Linked DNA regions of Homo sapiens: region 2 is linked to region 1. Evidence: fine-mapped expression QTL. Tissue or cell type: tibial nerve. Region 1 holds a variant in brackets; the other region holds the start of a gene. All regions are shown on one strand. Distances are from middle to middle.

The links. PIP is the estimated chance that this variant, and not a neighbour inherited with it, causes the effect.
Region 2: MIR1915HG starts here. The variant in region 1 is fine-mapped to the expression of MIR1915HG in tibial nerve (GTEx, PIP above 0.99).

Annotation. Positions count from the first base shown.
Region 1 is chr10:21,281,154-21,289,258 of GRCh38, reverse strand. It overlaps a transcript of NEBL not described here. Among named protein-coding and RNA genes, the nearest start is that of LINC02643, 88 kb to the left of the region's middle. RefSeq lists enhancers at 1,460-2,219, 2,980-3,739, 6,085-6,761, 6,762-7,440. The variant G/A (reference allele first, on the strand shown) is at 3,448.
Region 2 is chr10:21,494,005-21,502,109 of GRCh38, reverse strand. MIR1915HG (MIR1915 host gene) reads left to right here and starts at 4,850. Exons shown (of 2, transcript NR_160800.1): 1 at 4,850-5,360; 2 at 6,165-8,105. It overlaps MIR1915 (microRNA 1915), which reads left to right and starts at 5,469; the gene lies at 5,469-5,548. RefSeq lists silencers at 5,370-5,619, 5,830-5,879, 5,930-6,369, 7,183-7,282 and an enhancer at 6,794-7,587.

The sequences.
Region 1 (8,105 bases):
AGCTGTAAGGCCCTCATTTGATCAGGTGCAATTATGTTCCTGCTCATTCTTTCCAGTTTGGGAACAACCGGGCTTAAGTCCTGATTACTGCCCTATCATAAAATATAAAAAGGGCCGGGCTCAGTGGCTCATGCCAGTAATCTCAACATTTTGGGAAGCTGAGGCGGGTGGATCACGAGATCAGGAGTTCAAGACCAGCCTGGCCAAGATGGTGAAACCCTGTCTCTACTAAAAAATACAAAAATTAGCCAGGCTTGGTTGTGGGCACCTGTAATCCCAGCTACTCGGGAGGCTGAGGCAGAGAATTGCTTGAACCCGGGAGGCAGAGGTTGTAGTGAGCTGAGATCCTGCCGCTGCACTCCAGCCTGGGCAACAGAGCAAGACTCCGTCTCAAAAAAAAAAAATTTTTATATATATATATATATATATATATATATACACACACACACGTATATATTGTCAGATGGTAATAATTTTCTTTTTCTTTTTTTTTTTTTTGGCGATGGAGTCTCGCTCTGTCGCCCAGGCTAGAGTGCAGTGGAATGAGTTCGGCTCACTGCAACCTCTGCCTCCTGGGTTTGAGCAATTCTCTGCCTCAGCCTCGAAAGTAGCTGGGATTACAGGTGTCTGCCAGCAGGCCCGGCTAATTTTTGTATTTTTAGTAGAGACGGGGTTTCACCATTTTGGCCAGGCTGGTCCTGAACTCCTGACTTCGTGATCCACCCGCCTTAGCCTTCCAAAGTGCTGGGATTACAGGCATGAGCCACCGCGTCGGGCTTTTTCTCTTTTTTGAGACACAGGCTTACTGTGTCACCCAAGCTGGAGTGCAGTGGCACGATCTTGGCTCACTGCAAACTCTGACTCCTGGGTTCAAGTGATTCTCCTGCCTCAGCCTCCCAAGTAGCTGGGACTACAGATGCCTGGCACCATGCCTGGCTAATTTTCATAGTTTTAGTAGAGACAGGGTTTCATTATGTTGGCCAGGCTGGTCTCGAACTCCTGACCTAGTGATCCGCCCGCCTTGGCCTCCCAAAGTGCTGGGATTACAGGTGTTAGCCACCATGCCCGGCTGGCAGCAATGATTTTCATGTCTTGTTATTACTTCACTCCTTTGATTACTGGTGTCATAATGATTACCATTTGTTTAATGGTTTCTAGGTACCAGGTACTTGGCTAAGCACTTTATATGCATTATCTCTTAATTCTCACAATCCTATGGGGATACATTGCATTATTCATTGCTTTTCAGAAGAGAAAATTGAGACAGATTAATAGCTTGCCTGGAATAACTCACATAGTATATGGATATGAACATATGCTCTGCCTATTTTTTTTCAGAGATGGTTTCATAATTTTTATTTTCTTACAGTTTTTTGCACTGGGATCCAAATAAGGTCTATACATTGCAGTTGGTTGACAGCTGTACCCTTTTTCCATCTCTTCTATTTTCTTTGCAATTTTTTTGTTGTTGTTGAGAGAATGTCGTTATTTGTCTTCTAGATTTATTTTCAGTCTTGATTTTGCCAATTCAGTATGTACTAACATTTAACATTTCTTCTATCTCCTGTATTTCCTGTGAAGTGATATATCTGGATTATAGGGGTTTGATTAGATTTTTAATGAATACTTTCAATGGTCTCCCATTATAATTTTAATTTTACTTGCATTTCTCTTATTGTATGTAGAGTTGAACATACTTTCAACCCTTTGACTCTTTTTCTTTTCCACGGAGTCTCACTCTGTCACCCAAGCTGAAGAGCAGTGGCCGAATCTTGGTTCACTGCAACCTCCACCTCCCTGGCTTAGGCTATTCTTTTGCCTCAGCCTCCCAAGTAGCTAGGACTATAGGAACATGCCACCCTGCCTGGCTAGTTTTTGTATTTTTGGGAGAGATGGGGTTTTACCATGTTGCCCAGGCTGGTCCCAGACTCCTGACCTCAAGTGATCCACCTGCCTCGGCCTCCCAAAATTCTGGGATCACAGGCATGAACTACTGAGCCCAGCCTAACCCTCTGGCTCTTGACCAAGGCTCTTAGCTTCCACTTCTTTTATGGGAGTTCTCATGACTTCCTGGATTCTTTCCCTTGACCTGCCACTGCTGACCTCCTGGTCTTTGTGATGGATGCCGGTACTTGCTTCTCTGTTAACGGTTGCTTCTGGTTGTGGATTTTCAGCTTCTGGAACCCGTAACCAGCCTTGGTTCTTATTAGGGAATTCTGCTCAGATTCTCATTCTGATTACTTGGATCTTGACCTTTTTGAATAATCCTCTGGTCTGTACCCTCTGCCTCCCCACCACCCTTTGTTGGTCACACTTGTCGCTACTGCCATCTCCACTCTGGTGTGAACAAAGGTCAAATTGTCTGTTCCTGTATGATTTCTACAGTATTTATAGCTGTAGTCTGCTTTTTTTTTTTTTCTGAGATGGATTCTTGCTCTTTCACCCAGGCTGGAGCGCAGTGGCGCCATCTCGGCTCACTGCAACCTCCGCCTCCCAAGTTCACGTCACGCCATTCTCCTGCCTCAGCCTCCCGAGTAACTGGGACTACAGGTGCCCACCACCACGCCTGGCTAATTTTTTTGTGTTTTTTAATAGAGACAGGGTTTCACTGTGTTAGCCAGGATGGTCTCGATCTCCTGACCTTGTGATCCACCCGCCTTGGCCTCCCAAAGTGCTGGGATTACAGGCGTGAGCCATGGCGCCCTGCTATAGCTATAGTCTGAATCCAGTCTGCTAAAGGCCAAAAGCAGGGGTAGAGGCATGTCAACCTCACGGTGATACATGCAAGATAACATGTTTAGTAACAGAACATCTTTCTTAATATGGCAATTTTCTTCAGATAGGATATCAATGGAGACATAACAATGTTGGTAGCATTTCATTGGCCTGGCCGTGCCCCACAAATGGAGAATGTTAGTAATTTTCCAAGACCAGCTCTGGGCTACAAAGAATGTTATTAAATAAATCATTAAAGATAAAAAGATTCCTGAAATGGCAAGTATTTTCTGTCTCCAGTGATGAAAACCAAATATGCTGCTCCCATTGCAGACATGTATAACTTATTAGACTGTTTCAAGAACACAATAGGATGAAATCAGTGACTAAGAGAAAATAGAAAATAAAATCCATTCATTCATCCAGTCACAGATAGGCTGAGAAAGAGCCAAGGTCATAGTGAGGAAGAAAATCTGAAGGCCAAGTCTAAAGAGAGGGGGAGAACCAGAGATGGAAGAATGAGCGGTGATGTAAAAAGCCAGAAGGTCTGAGCCCCGCATGGAATGTGGCCTGAGGAATGGGTCAGGGCGAGAAGTTCAAAATTAAGACCCTGGACAGTGGATGCACTTAACTCTCACAGGGTGTGGGGTCCGGGGTGGCTGTTTACAGCATAGCAGCCAAGCATGGCATGGTGACTCAGTGGCCCCTAAATGGGATGATTCATGAGTCACA[G/A]GAGTGACTCCTTTGCTTTAGTGATTGATGCCTTACTTGATTCTTACATGATCTGAAATCTCATTGTAATAACGACTTTAGACACTTCCTGGAAGTAGAACAGCTTATCTTGAAAAATTTCAGTGAAGCCTGTGAAGCCCAAAAATTCAAGACAGGTGTCAGTTAATTTAGAAAGTTCATTTTGCCAAGGTTGAGGACATGCCCATGACACAGCCTCAGGAGGTCCTGACGACATGTCCCCAAGGTGGTTGGGGCATAGTTTAGTTTTATATATCTTAGGGAGATGTGAGACATCAATCAGTATATGTAAGAAGCACTCTGATTCGGTCTGGAAAGGTGGGACAACTTGAAGCAAAGGCAGGAAGATGGGGAAGGGCTTCCAGGTAGGCGAGAAAGGAATGGTTGCATTCTTTTGAGTTTCTGATTAGCCTTTCCAAGGGAGGCCATCAGATATGCATCTATCTCAGTCAGCAGAGGGGTGACTTCGAATAGAATAGGAGGGATGTTTGCCCTAAGCAGCTCCCAGCTTGATTTTTCCCTTTAGCTTAGTGATTTGGGGCCCCAAGATTTATTTTTCTTTCACAAGCCTTACAAGCTGCACCAATGATCTACTCGATAATGGCACACTTCTGTAACCATGAATCTGTCCTTCGAAAAACAGAAAATTAAAATAGTCCTTTCCACAATGCAAACTTAAACTTTAAACAATGTCATAGTGACTCAGTTAGGATGGTGCTTTTCTTATTTTATAGAGGTGGGATTTTGCTCTGTCACTCAGGCTAGAGTGCAGTGGTACCACGATAGCTCTGTAGCCTCAAATTCCTGGGCTCAAAGATCCTCCTGCCTCAGTCTTCCAAGTAGCTGGGATTACAGGCACAAACCACCATGCCCTGTGAATGGTGCTTTTTCATACAAAATGCACAATCAGTTCACAAAAACAGGATGTAAAAAATCATGATCTAATGTGAGATTTGTTAATTTTGATGCAAAACTCAGTAGACCAGTTGGCTTGAATATGATGGGTTTTCATGTCTTTATTAGTCCAGCTTTGAGGAAGCTGTGCAAGGGAGAGTGAGGAAGCCTCCCTAACCCCTTTAGGGCAAAACTTCTTCAGAGTAGAACCAAGTTTGGCGAGTCTCTGAGGTCTAGAGTGAAATACAATAAAATTTGCATTTATATAGCACTCCTTGTGCTCTTCCTTTATGTGTGCTATCCATATTAAATAAAAACACAATTAAGAGTTAGTTCTAAAATACCAGGTCAAATATATCAAACAAAATCAGGAATGGCAATTAGTGCTAGAATACCAGAACAAACAGATGGCTATTGAGTTTGGATTTAAGAAGAGAAATAAGATGTGCTTGCTGCATATCAATGGAGGAGTAATTCTGGAACTTGGGCTGACTTGGGCTGGGAGGGTGGGCTGCAGGAAGAGCCAAGTTGGGACGGTGATCAGGCCTAGGCATTGTAATGATTAGAAAGAACAAAAGCTCAGTGCAGCTGAAATTAGTGGACATGCACTATGTGCCAAGGAAATATCATCAGACTGAATTCTGTCTTCAAGCCACTTCATTTTCGTTTTTTTTTTTTTTTTTTTTTTTGGAGACGGAGTCTTGCTCTGTCACCCAGGCTGTAGTGCAGTGGTGCGATCTCGGCTCACTGTAACCTCTGCCTCCTGGGTTCTACAGATTCTCCTGCCTCAGCTTCCTGAGTAGCTGGGACTACAGGCGTGAGCCACCATACCTGGCTCATTTTTTTTTTTTTTTTTTTTTTTTAGTGCAGATTAGGTTTTGCTATGTTGAACCAGGCTGGTCTCGAACTCCTGACCTCAAGTGATCCACCCACCTGGGCCTCCCAAAGTGCTGGGATTACAGGCTTGAGCCACCATGCCCGACTGGCCAAGCCACTTAGAGTCCGATGGAGGACCTTCACTATTTGTTGCAGTCTAAGACCTAAAATAAACCCATGCTGCTCTACCTAAGCCCTGAAAAGAAATTCAGCTCAGGTCCCTTATCTGTTCTGAAGTCTAAGAAGCTCTGAAAACCCAAAAGATTTTCTTAAGGAGAAGCTGAAATTTTGTAGTCTTTACCTATCCCACTTGGTATGAATATTCATATGATTCACTGCAGAAATATTAATAGGTTTGATTGAGGGGTCTTATTCCAGACTCTGCTGGGTGTGTTACATGGAATATAATAGAATATATGTACTCTATAACCTTTCTAAAACCAAAAATCATCCAAATTCTGGAATACCACAGGCTCCAAAGTTATAGGGAAGGGGTCCAGATCCAGACCCCAAGAGGCGGTTCTTGGATCTCACGCAACAAATAATTCAGGGGGAGTCTGTAGAGTAAAGTGAAAGCAAGTTTATTAGGAAAGTAAAGGAATAAAAGAATGGCTACTTTGTATACAGGGCAGCCCCAAGGGCTGCTGGTTGCCCGTTTTTATGGTTATTTCTTGATGATATGCTAAACAAGCGGTGGATTATTCATGCCTCCCCTTTTTAGACCATATAGGGTAACTTCCTGTTGTTGCCATGGCATTTATTTGTAAACCGTCATGGCGCTAATGGGAATGTAGCAGTGAGGACAACCAGAGGTCACTCTTGTTGCCATTTTGGTTCTGGTGGGTTTTAGCTGGCTTCTTTACCGCAATTTTTTTTTTTTTTTTTTTTGAGACACAGTCTTGCCCTGTCGCCCAGGCTAGAGTGCAGTGGCATGATCTCTGCTCACTGCAACCTCTGCCTCCTGGGTTCAAGCTATTCTCCTGCCTCAGCCTCCCAAGTAGCTGGGCTTACAGGTGCATGCCACCATGCCTGGCTAATTTTTTAAAATTTTTTGTATTTTCAGTAGAGAAGGGGTTTCACCATGTTGGCCAGGCTGGTCTCGAACTCTTAACCTCAGGTGATCTGCCTGCCTCGGCCTCCCAAAGTGCTGGGATTACAGGCGTGAGCCACTGCGCCCTGCCTATTGCAACCTTTTTTTAATCAGCAATATCTTTATGACCTGTATCTTGTGGTGACCCTTTATGTCATCCTGTGACTTAGAATGCCTTAACTGTCTGGGAATGCAGCCCAGTAGGTCTCAGCCTCATTTTACCCAGCTCCTATTCAACATGGAGTTGCTCAGAGGTTCACACGCCTCTGACAATATGACCTGTTGTAAAATGGTCTTTCTTCAGCCTCTAGTTCCTCACTGCACAGTCCCTATTAATTCAATATATGGCTTTGTTCCTCAGGCTCCAGCTGAACTTTCTGTCATCAATGCTTCTTTTTGCTTCTTCTTCTTTTTTTTCCCCCCTGCCTTTGGCCTTAACTTCTTGATCTGGTGGCAAAGGTATGACTTCGTCCTTCCTGGGAGCTCTTTCCTTGGCATCATTCCCTGACACTATGGTAGCCGTCCCTCCCTTTTGCCTCTGTGACCAAAGCTTGGTTTTGTTTGTTTGCACCTTTCCTTAGGTTTGTGCTCCCTACGGAGCCTCTTGCATTGTAGGTACTAATAAATATTTGTAATGAAGGAATTCCCCAAGGCCTGGATTGCTGCTCTCTACCCCCGCAGAGAGCTCATCCATTCACAGCAGTCACCGGCTGGGCAGAGGCTCCTAAATCTACATATTCACTTCTGACCTGTCACTGGAATTCCTCTTCCATTGTTGCAGATGTTTACTGATCTCTTTGGCTAACTGTCTTGCTAGCACCTCATTTTCAACCTCTCCCTTCAAAAGTCTCACATACGCACAAATCCCACACTTGCATCTATAGGAATGGGAAGAAATTGGTAGGCTGGAGGAATGGTTGTGGGACAGAAGGAGGGAAACTTTTAAAACAATTGCATCTTTTGTTTGTTGTACCTTCACGTGTATTACTTAAAAAGAAAGGAATTTATTTTTCAAAAGGAAAAGTTACATGACATTCTGGAAAAGGCAAAACTATGGATACAGTAAGAAGACTGTTGGTGACTAGGGGCTTGAAGGGACGGAGGGATGAGAAGGGGGAGGACAGAGGACTTTTAGGGCAGTGAAATTATCCTGTAGGTTCCTTTAAATGGGGGATGTGCATCATTATGCATTTTTCCAAATCCATAGAATGCACAACACAGACAGAACCCCCAAAGTAAACTATGGACTCCAGGTGATCGTGATATGTTAACGTAGGTTTATGTAGGTAACAAATGTCCCACACTGGTGTGGGATGTCAGGATGTGGATGGTGGGGAGGATGAATGTGTGTTTGGGGAGGGGCTGTGCGGGAACTCTGCACATTTTACCCCATTTCATGTCAACCTAAAATGGCTCTAAAAATGTCTATTAATTATAAAAAAAAAAAGAAAGAAAGAAAAGGAAAGACAAGCAGCAGAGAGTGGTGGTGTGTACCTGTAATCCCAGCGAGTTGGGAGGCTGAGGCAGGAGGATTACTTGAGGCAAGGAGTTTGAGACCAGCCTGGGCAATATAGCAAGATCCCTTCTCTCTAAAAACACACACACAAAAAACCCCAAAACCAAAAAACAAGGGCTTGCACTGGGCCAGAATGCTTGGTATTTTGTGCTGGAAGCTCACTATATTTACACTAATTAGAGTCAGTGCAGACAAACTGATTATTCATAAAAGGAGGAAGTAGTTCACTCACTCAGGCTGGATTCACTAGATCCCTGTTGACAG
Region 2 (8,105 bases), 210 kb before region 1:
CTCTCATCACAATGATGACTTGCTCCCACTTGGAGTTTGGTTGTAAGTACTAGATGTATTTCTCTGTGAGGATCTCCTTACCTGTGAATGGTCCAGACAGGAGGAGGAACCTTAAGCCCATTTCTTGGGAATCTAATGTGGGCTGACCTTGGCTGGATTAAGGCTGAGATTGGTTATGCAACAAAGCACCTGGGTTCTCACAGCTTGAATCTCCCTGGCTTTCTGTGGAGTGATGACTGGCTACAGGGAGGCTATTATGCCTTATAAAGCTATTTATCTCCCCAAAGGTACATGGCCCATTCCTCTCTTCAGGTTGGGGAGAGGGGTAGGTCGGTTCCAGTCAGGTGCAAGAGTAAAATTCACTCAAAAAAGTTACTTCGAGAAAGTATTAATAGTTATTGAAACCAGTTATCCCTCTTTTAGAGTGTGGGAAAGACTGAGTTATGGGGCAATTTGGATAAGAAAGGAGTTGTTCCATTTTGTGCTGATCCCCTTTGGCCATCTTTTATTCTGCATCTCCCCTGCTCCTCTTCCTCCCCACCCCCCATCCTCCTCTTCCCTGCTTCTTCTTCTGCCTTCCCTCCTCCTCCTCTTCTTTATTTTAAATCATGTCAGAAGAACAAGCAGGTTGAAAGCACCAATGGGCTTACATTGTGAGGGCCTCTGCTGCAGCTGAAACAAGGCCTGGCTGTGTCTGGACAGGTGGCACAGAGCGCAGAGATTCTTGTTCTTGTGTGACCGAGGGGTAATTTGGAGAGAAGGAATCTCCTTGGGGGAAGACATGTGGGTGGGGCCTCTCTGTCCCAGGTCACTGAAGCAGTTTCTAGGGGCAGTGCCTAAGCCGAAGGACCCTGTAGGCCTGCCCTGGTGTAGAGTACCTGTTGCTGGAAGCTGTGTGGGGAGCCTCTGGCCCCCTGGCCTATTGTAAGTCCTGGGGTTAGGTCGGGCTCCCCCTGGGGCTGCTGGATTCACCTGTCATTACGCTCACTGCCCAGGGACCCTGACAAACCTCCACAATGTGGGGCTGAACAAGGGCGCTTAAGGTTCACTGATCTGTGTGTAGAACTTTGCAAAACTGCAAATAAGCGAGAAAATTTGGCTATTCTTGTGACGGGAGATACAAGTTTGCACTTAACATGGAAGCTTGAGAAAAAGAAGGGGAAAAACCCTTCTGGCCCAAAGCCCCACTGTAATCTCCAGAACAATTTCATTTCCTCTGCAGCACCCTGGCTACCCTCGCCCAGGCCTCAGAAAGGTCAGGGGGAGAAGGAGCTTAAAAGCAGGGGCGGGGACGCAGAGGGGTGGCTAGGCCCTTGGCCAGGTAGCAGGTGAGGGCCGGCTGGGTGATGCGAGGGGCCAGGATGGAAGGCCGCAGGACGGGGGAGGGGCAGAGCCACGGCTTTTGGAAGGGCTTGGTGTTTTCTAGAGGGCTTTTTCTTAGGAATTTGCACGGTCCGCCTCTGGGGCGGCTTATTGGGGCTCTCCCCCGCCCCTGCTAGCAGAACAGGTCGCAGGGAGCTCAGGTTTCCGCCGAAGCCTCCAGCCGCCAGGCCGCCAGCACTCCGCCGGCCTCTGCCAACAGGCCTTTCCCGCTTGCTGAGAAAGGGAAAAGCGCGCGCCCCGGGCCCTGCAGGCTGAGATCACGTTTTTGCCGAGCGACTCCGGTACTCCCGGGGAAGCCAAACTGCCCCCTAGCAGCTGCGTCAACCTCGCCCGGCTGCGCGGCCCGGAGAGCGTGTTCCCCGGAAGGGGCTCCCGCAAGCGGCAGCCGAGATCCCCAGTGGTTGCGCGGCTGCCGGGAACCCGCGGGTCTCAGAGAGAAGCAGGCCGCGGGAAGCATTACCTCTCCCCTCCAAAGGGGAACTTGGAACTTTTGAACCCTTTAAAGTGATTGATCATGCTCCACCAGAGAGCGGCTCCACCCCCGCCGCCTTCCCTTGTCACCTCGGCTCTAAGTGTGCGTGGAGGTCGCGCGCGGCGCGCGGGGTCGTGCATTTGGCGCTCTGTGCTGCCAACGTGAGCACCCAGCACCTGAGCGGCTGTCGCGATTTTGGAGGAATCCCGATCTGAGAGCCCAGAACTGGGACATTGGTGCGTGCCTCCTTGCCCACAGCCCTCTAGGTGCAACACGCCAGCGACAATTTTTCCCAGGAAATCCGTCCCTGCGCCCCGGCCCCCCTCCAAGGATGTCCTCGCAGGAGCCGGGCTCCGCACTGGGAGGCTTCAGGGAACGGAGCACTGGGGCTCAAAGCCTCCACGAGTTAAGCTGATTATTAATTTGGGCTGGTGGGAGCCAGTAACACGCTCGACGCCTTTGGCTTTGGGAATTGTCCGGGAGCTGGGACGGAGGCAGGAATGACCCAGGGTTGCGACTGGGAAATGCGAGTTGCGGAGGCTCCCGGACGTAGCTGAGTGGGCTGGGTAGAACTCCCAGGGCAAAGGTTGGCTCTTCCTCGCCCCCAAATAAATTCTTAGTTAACTAGTTTAGACTAAACACATTAATAGTATTAAGTGGTGAAAATAGACAGGGTTGAACGTGGGGGCATGTCAACTGGACCCAGACCTGGTCATACTTCTCCTCTGGTGACAAATCAGGGTGCTTCCAACACGAAAACAGAAAATAGAAATGTAACATTCAACTGGACGAATTAATTTTTGACGGATTTACGGTATGATTTCCTTTCAAGCAGTATTCATTGGTTCTTTCCATCCACAGTGCGGTCCAAAGACAGAAATATAAACAAGCACTTTATGCTTTGCGGAAACCCCTTAACAGTATCTCCCAAAGAAAGATCAAGACACTTTGTGAATTTTCCCCAGATAATGCCTCATATTCCGAATGACTGATCAGAGAACTCCGGTATTGTTAAATAAAATGAGAGGAAGGCGAGTGACGTGGGAGTCGAACAATGGCATTTCTGAATCTGTTTGCTTGATTGACATTTGGGAGCTTCATGACCCCAGAGAATAGGACTCATTACGGTGAATACACCAAAACATCAACCAAGATTAGAACTCTAGATGCTGTTTTAATCCCATTCCAGTCCAAATTATAGTGGGAAAATATAAAATCCAAGTGCAGAGAATCACTCCGTTATATATTGACCTAAAGTTTTAATTGTACTAAGGGGGAAATAAAAGTGGAAACCCTCTATACTTTCCAGAATTTTAGATAGAGCACTGACAGGGAAAATGCATGGATTTGGTAGCGGAGGTACTAAGAATATTTGTGTGGTATACAACATGTCATACTTGGGAGACACTTTATTGGAAAAATAAGTAGAGAGTTTTTTGTATGTATGAGAAAAATATCATAACCATTTCCACTTAAAAAGTGAAGATCATTCTGATGCCCCAAAATAACTGAGGCTAAGAAATAATTAGATACCTTAAAGCTACAGTCTAAATTTCCATGACTGTTTGGAAGACTTCTCTCCAACGCGGGAGGGGAATTTGTTTTTTAATGTCAAAGGTTGTGTTAGCATGTACATTTAACCCAGGAAATTGTGAGAACTCTCTTCAACTCAAGTTGGAAAAAGGGAATGTGTTTGAGCAAAGTCTATTTTTAACAACAGAAAAGTGTGAGTTAAAGTGGACTGTGTGTTAGGTTGGGAATATAATCCATGGCAACTTCACTATACAAGTATTTTTGATTCTTCAGTGGAACTCATCCTCAAATTTTAGTAACTTGAAAAATTGAAGTCTTAAGTATTGTGTATTAAACTGAACCAAGAGATCACAGAAAGACAAAGCTATGGTAAAAGATGTTATAGTTATATTCTCATAGATTTAGTAGGAAAATCACAGCAAAGGAAATGCACCAGGAAGATATGAAATAGAGGAAATATGTTACAAATAATGAAATAGAAGGAGTTGCTGCACAATATAGCTTCACAATCTTATATTTTGAGGGGTAGGTTTTAATGAGAAGCCTCTGCATTGCATGGGAACTGGGAGTCGTAAGAATTATTTATGCAGTAAGAAGGAAAAAAATTAATTATTAGGAGCTCAATAATCACCAAATAAACTCTGAGCTTGGAGGTTAAAAATAGACGGCTATCTTCATGTTCAATTATACAGTATCAATTACTAATACAACTGATGTTTCAGTGTCTCAGCGAGAACAGATACCATCTTCTATGGAGATATCTTGGTATTAATTAATGACTGCTTTATTCTCATTATTCACAAGGAAAAATAGGGGTCGTGTCACATTAAAATTAAGATTATCTTAGTTTATCTGGGCTCTTAAACAAAGATCATTCAAAGTAATTATACTTTGAATTAATCGAGGTAGGCAATTTATCTCGTTATTTTTTTTTGTTCAAAGACAGGAAAATAAAGATCAGAAATAAGCAAAGTTTCATTTTGAAGATAGAAAGAACCAAACAAACATGTCTTGACTTTTGCAGTATTTCCCTTGCTAAAGGGGGAATGAGGGAACTGTAAAAGACGTGACTTTGCAAAGTCAAGTCCTTTTTAAAAGACTCGGATCGAAATTCTTGCTATGCAACAAGGATTCAAGTTTGATTAATTTTCTGCAAGCGACGTGACAGCGGTGTTTTAAAAGATTAATTAAAATTGAAGTGATACGGAGCAGGAATTCAACCTGCAGAGGCGTCCCTGGCGCCTTGGGGGGCTTTGTAAGCGAGTCCCAAGCCCGAACTGCGGGCTTTCCCGAGCCTGGGACGCAACTCCCCGTCTCCTGGAGAGGAACGCGGAATTTGGCAGGGCGCCCGCCTGGCCGCCTGGCATCCTGAGCTGGCCGCCAGCTCTCGGGGGGTGGGGACTGGGTGTGTCCTGGGGAACCCGCTGCCGAGAGAGCAGCTAGCGCAGCTCGCGACGAGCCATTGAGGACCAGGGTCGCGCCGAGAGGCCGGAGGGGGCTCCAGGCAGCCTGGAGCTGACGGCGCCGGGCTGCGTCCTCTTCACCTGGGGGTGGGGGGTGGGGGCACGTACTTTGTGACCAGGATGGTGCCGAGCCCCCTCTACGGCGGGAGCTTGCAGGGGTGCGGGGGTGTGACTGGCGCTCCGCGGACTCGTGTCCACAGTACAGAGGACATGTAGGGTTCGGCCGGGGCGCGGCTGCACCGGGGCCTGCCTCGCGGACCTGGACTCGGGACTCCGGGCGGCCCTGCCTGGTGCCATTGCCTCAGCCAAGTCTCCCACCTCTCTGCTCGGTTTCCCGCCCCACCTTTCCCCTACTACCGCATCCCTGTCCCCTCGCTTCCCTCCGCGATGTCTCCATCCGAGTAAGAAACGAAGCTGAACGCATTGGTAACTGTGCTCAAGAAGATGCAATCGCGGGAGCCCTCAGGGTGGCGCACGGCGGAGAGGCGACGCGGGTGGCGCTGCAGAGGGTACGGTGGGGGGCGGGGAAGAGGGGGGCGTTCGTGTGCAATTAGCCTCCCCAGGGCGCGGACCACGGTGTCCCCTTCTCTCCAGCTGGGGGTCTCGGGTCCTGGCGCTGAGAGGCCGCACCTTGCCTTGCTGCCCGGGCCGTGCACCCGTGGGCCCCAGGGCGACGCGGCGGGGGCGGCCCTAGCGACCTGCGGCGGCGCCGGGAAAGCCCTGCCTCTGCAGCGGGTCCCAGGGGTCGGGGCCTGGAAGGGTCCCTGGGAATGCTCCGCGCCGAGAAGGCTCTGTGGTTTCTCCTCCCCCACACGTCTCCCTCTCCTCCCCTCTTCCCGGGGACCTCAGAGGTGGCGGGGAAGTGGGAAGGGAGGCGGGCTTGCAGACCGTGCAGGCTGGGGAGCCGGAGCTCGGGAGTTGGGGGAGTCCGAGTGAGAACGGAAGCGCGTGGACGCGATGGAAGGGGCCGGGGGAAAGGGGGACGGCACTGGGGAGGGCTGGGGTGCGGGGCAGGCGACAGTCCCTTCCCCTCCGAGCGGCGCGGGGGACCTCTTCCCCGGGGAACCCCCACCCAGCCGTTCCCAACCTCGAGAACAAAGGGTCTGGGAAGCACGGTCGGGGTCGGGGAGCGGAGGTGGAGGGAGGCAGGAAGGCAGGCGGTGGGGGCAGGGGAGGGCGCCTCCCCACGTTTCCTCTCGCGGCCGAATGATGGAAAGCTCCCTCCAGCAAACGCCTCACTGAGGCCGCTTCTGAATCCGGGAGGGTTCGGGTTCGTTACCTAACGGCTGCACTTCGCTCCCTTCCTCCCCCAGCGTCCCCACCCCCTCCGGGGACCGGGGCCCCGGAGCTGCCAGGCCCGCTGCACGCGGCGGCGCGGGAGAAACCACGGGGCAGCAGCGCCCCCTGCAGGTGCCGGGCGCCTCCGCAGCCGCTGCGCGGACCCGACTCTTAAGGTGGCACCACCGGGTTCCCAGCCCGCGCGCAACCCGCAGCCCTGGCTCCATCCGCCGCACTTCTCCCTGTAGCGGCGGGCCTGACCGTCCGGAACGGCCGGAGTGTGCTGATGCCTGCTGCTATCTGCTTGATCCCTTCACCCTACCTCTCATCCAGGACTTCTTCCGCGGATGCGCAGCTAGCGATTTCGACAGGCGAGATTGAAAATTCCGGGCGAGTATATGAGGTTGAGTAAGTCCCGCTTCAGGGAGGAACGACCAGAATGACATTTCTTTAAGCCTAAATCAAACTTTTATTTTCGTTTATAAAAAGCAGAAGGCCAGCAGGAAAGGGTCGCGGAGGACTGGCACATCCACAACCGTAGGACTCTTGGATCCAAGTTTTTAGGCTGAGACTGGGCGGTCCGGGGTTCTCCTTCGGCGCTCACACCCCGCAAACTCGTGGGCAGTGCAGTGCTGGAGGCCGGGGGCAGTGGCGGACCCGCAGGGTAACCTTGTCTCGCGCACCTCCCGAGCCCCCAGCAGCCCACTCTCGTCCGAATGCTTTGTTTATTTGGTGACACCAGGGAACGTGGAGAAGAAGATCGAAGTTCAGTTTTTCTTTTTTCTTTATTTTAAATATTTTTCTTAACTAAATGGTATGTTTATGTGAACCCATCATCTCTTGGAATTAAGTGTCCTCAGCGAACTCCAGATTCCTAGGGGAAACCTACGTGCCCAGAGCAGGAAACGCACAAGTCAATTCAGGTTCCGGTGCCATCCGCAGTAAATTCCCTTCCTTTTGCTCCAAATTCCTCCTCTGCGTCCAGGAGAGGGACCCCCGGGACTCCCGCACACCCAGGACCGGGAGCGGCAGAGCAGAGGGCGGGTGCGAGGGCGCGAGGGAAGGGAGGCGGCCTGCGGACCTGGGGCGCGCAGTTTCCCGGCTCCGTGGGAACCTCCAACCCCGGGGCGCGCGGCCTAGGCTCCGCCCTGCCAGGCTTGGGGCCGAGCGGCCCACCTAGTGGGTCCTGACCTGGGGAAGCCGAGTCCGCGCGCGGGTCGGGCCGCGACGAGGGAAGCTCGCCTGGGCAAGTGCCGCGCGGGGTCAGACCCACCCCAGGGGTTGCAAACCGCAAGCGAAAGTCGAGAGGGGCTGGAGCTTTCCCTCTGATCCGTTTTACACTGTGAAAACCGCAGGCCTGTCGCCTAGGCGGCCACTTTTAAATTGGGAAGCAAATAGACGAAAAACCAAAACAAACGTACGAGCTGACTTTTCCCAGCTAAGTTTCCCCTCAATAAAAAGCCCGCTTTCTGGGAAAGACAGAAACTGATCCGCGCTCACGATTGCTTTCTTGGAGATTCTGGGGGCACTGGGGCGCGCAGGAGGCGCGGCGACAACCCCAGCGCGCATGGGGCAGCCTGGACTGTGCCCCTCTTACCAAGCTCCTTCCCAGGCTTCTCCGTGCTTCTCTCTCCACTGGGGTCCCGCCTCTCCACGGGTCACGCCGAGGCTATATGCTGCTTGCAAGGGGTCCGCGCTTTCTCGTTCGGCGGGAAAGGCACATGTTGGAGCTCGATGTTGGGGCTCAGGGTGTGGTTGATTTGTCTGCTGATCTGGGTTTCTTCCCAGCACCGGGCAGGAAGTGTAGGAGTTTGGGTCGCCAGTCCAGGGACTCGGGAAACTTCCAGGCCAACCAGAAGAAACACTTGCAGACACCTTTCGAATGTCACAGTTTTCCCCAGGGGAAAAAGCAGAAGTTGCTGGGCACATCACCCAGCACCCGGGCAAACTCTCCACTTACCTCGCGCCCTGCTAGG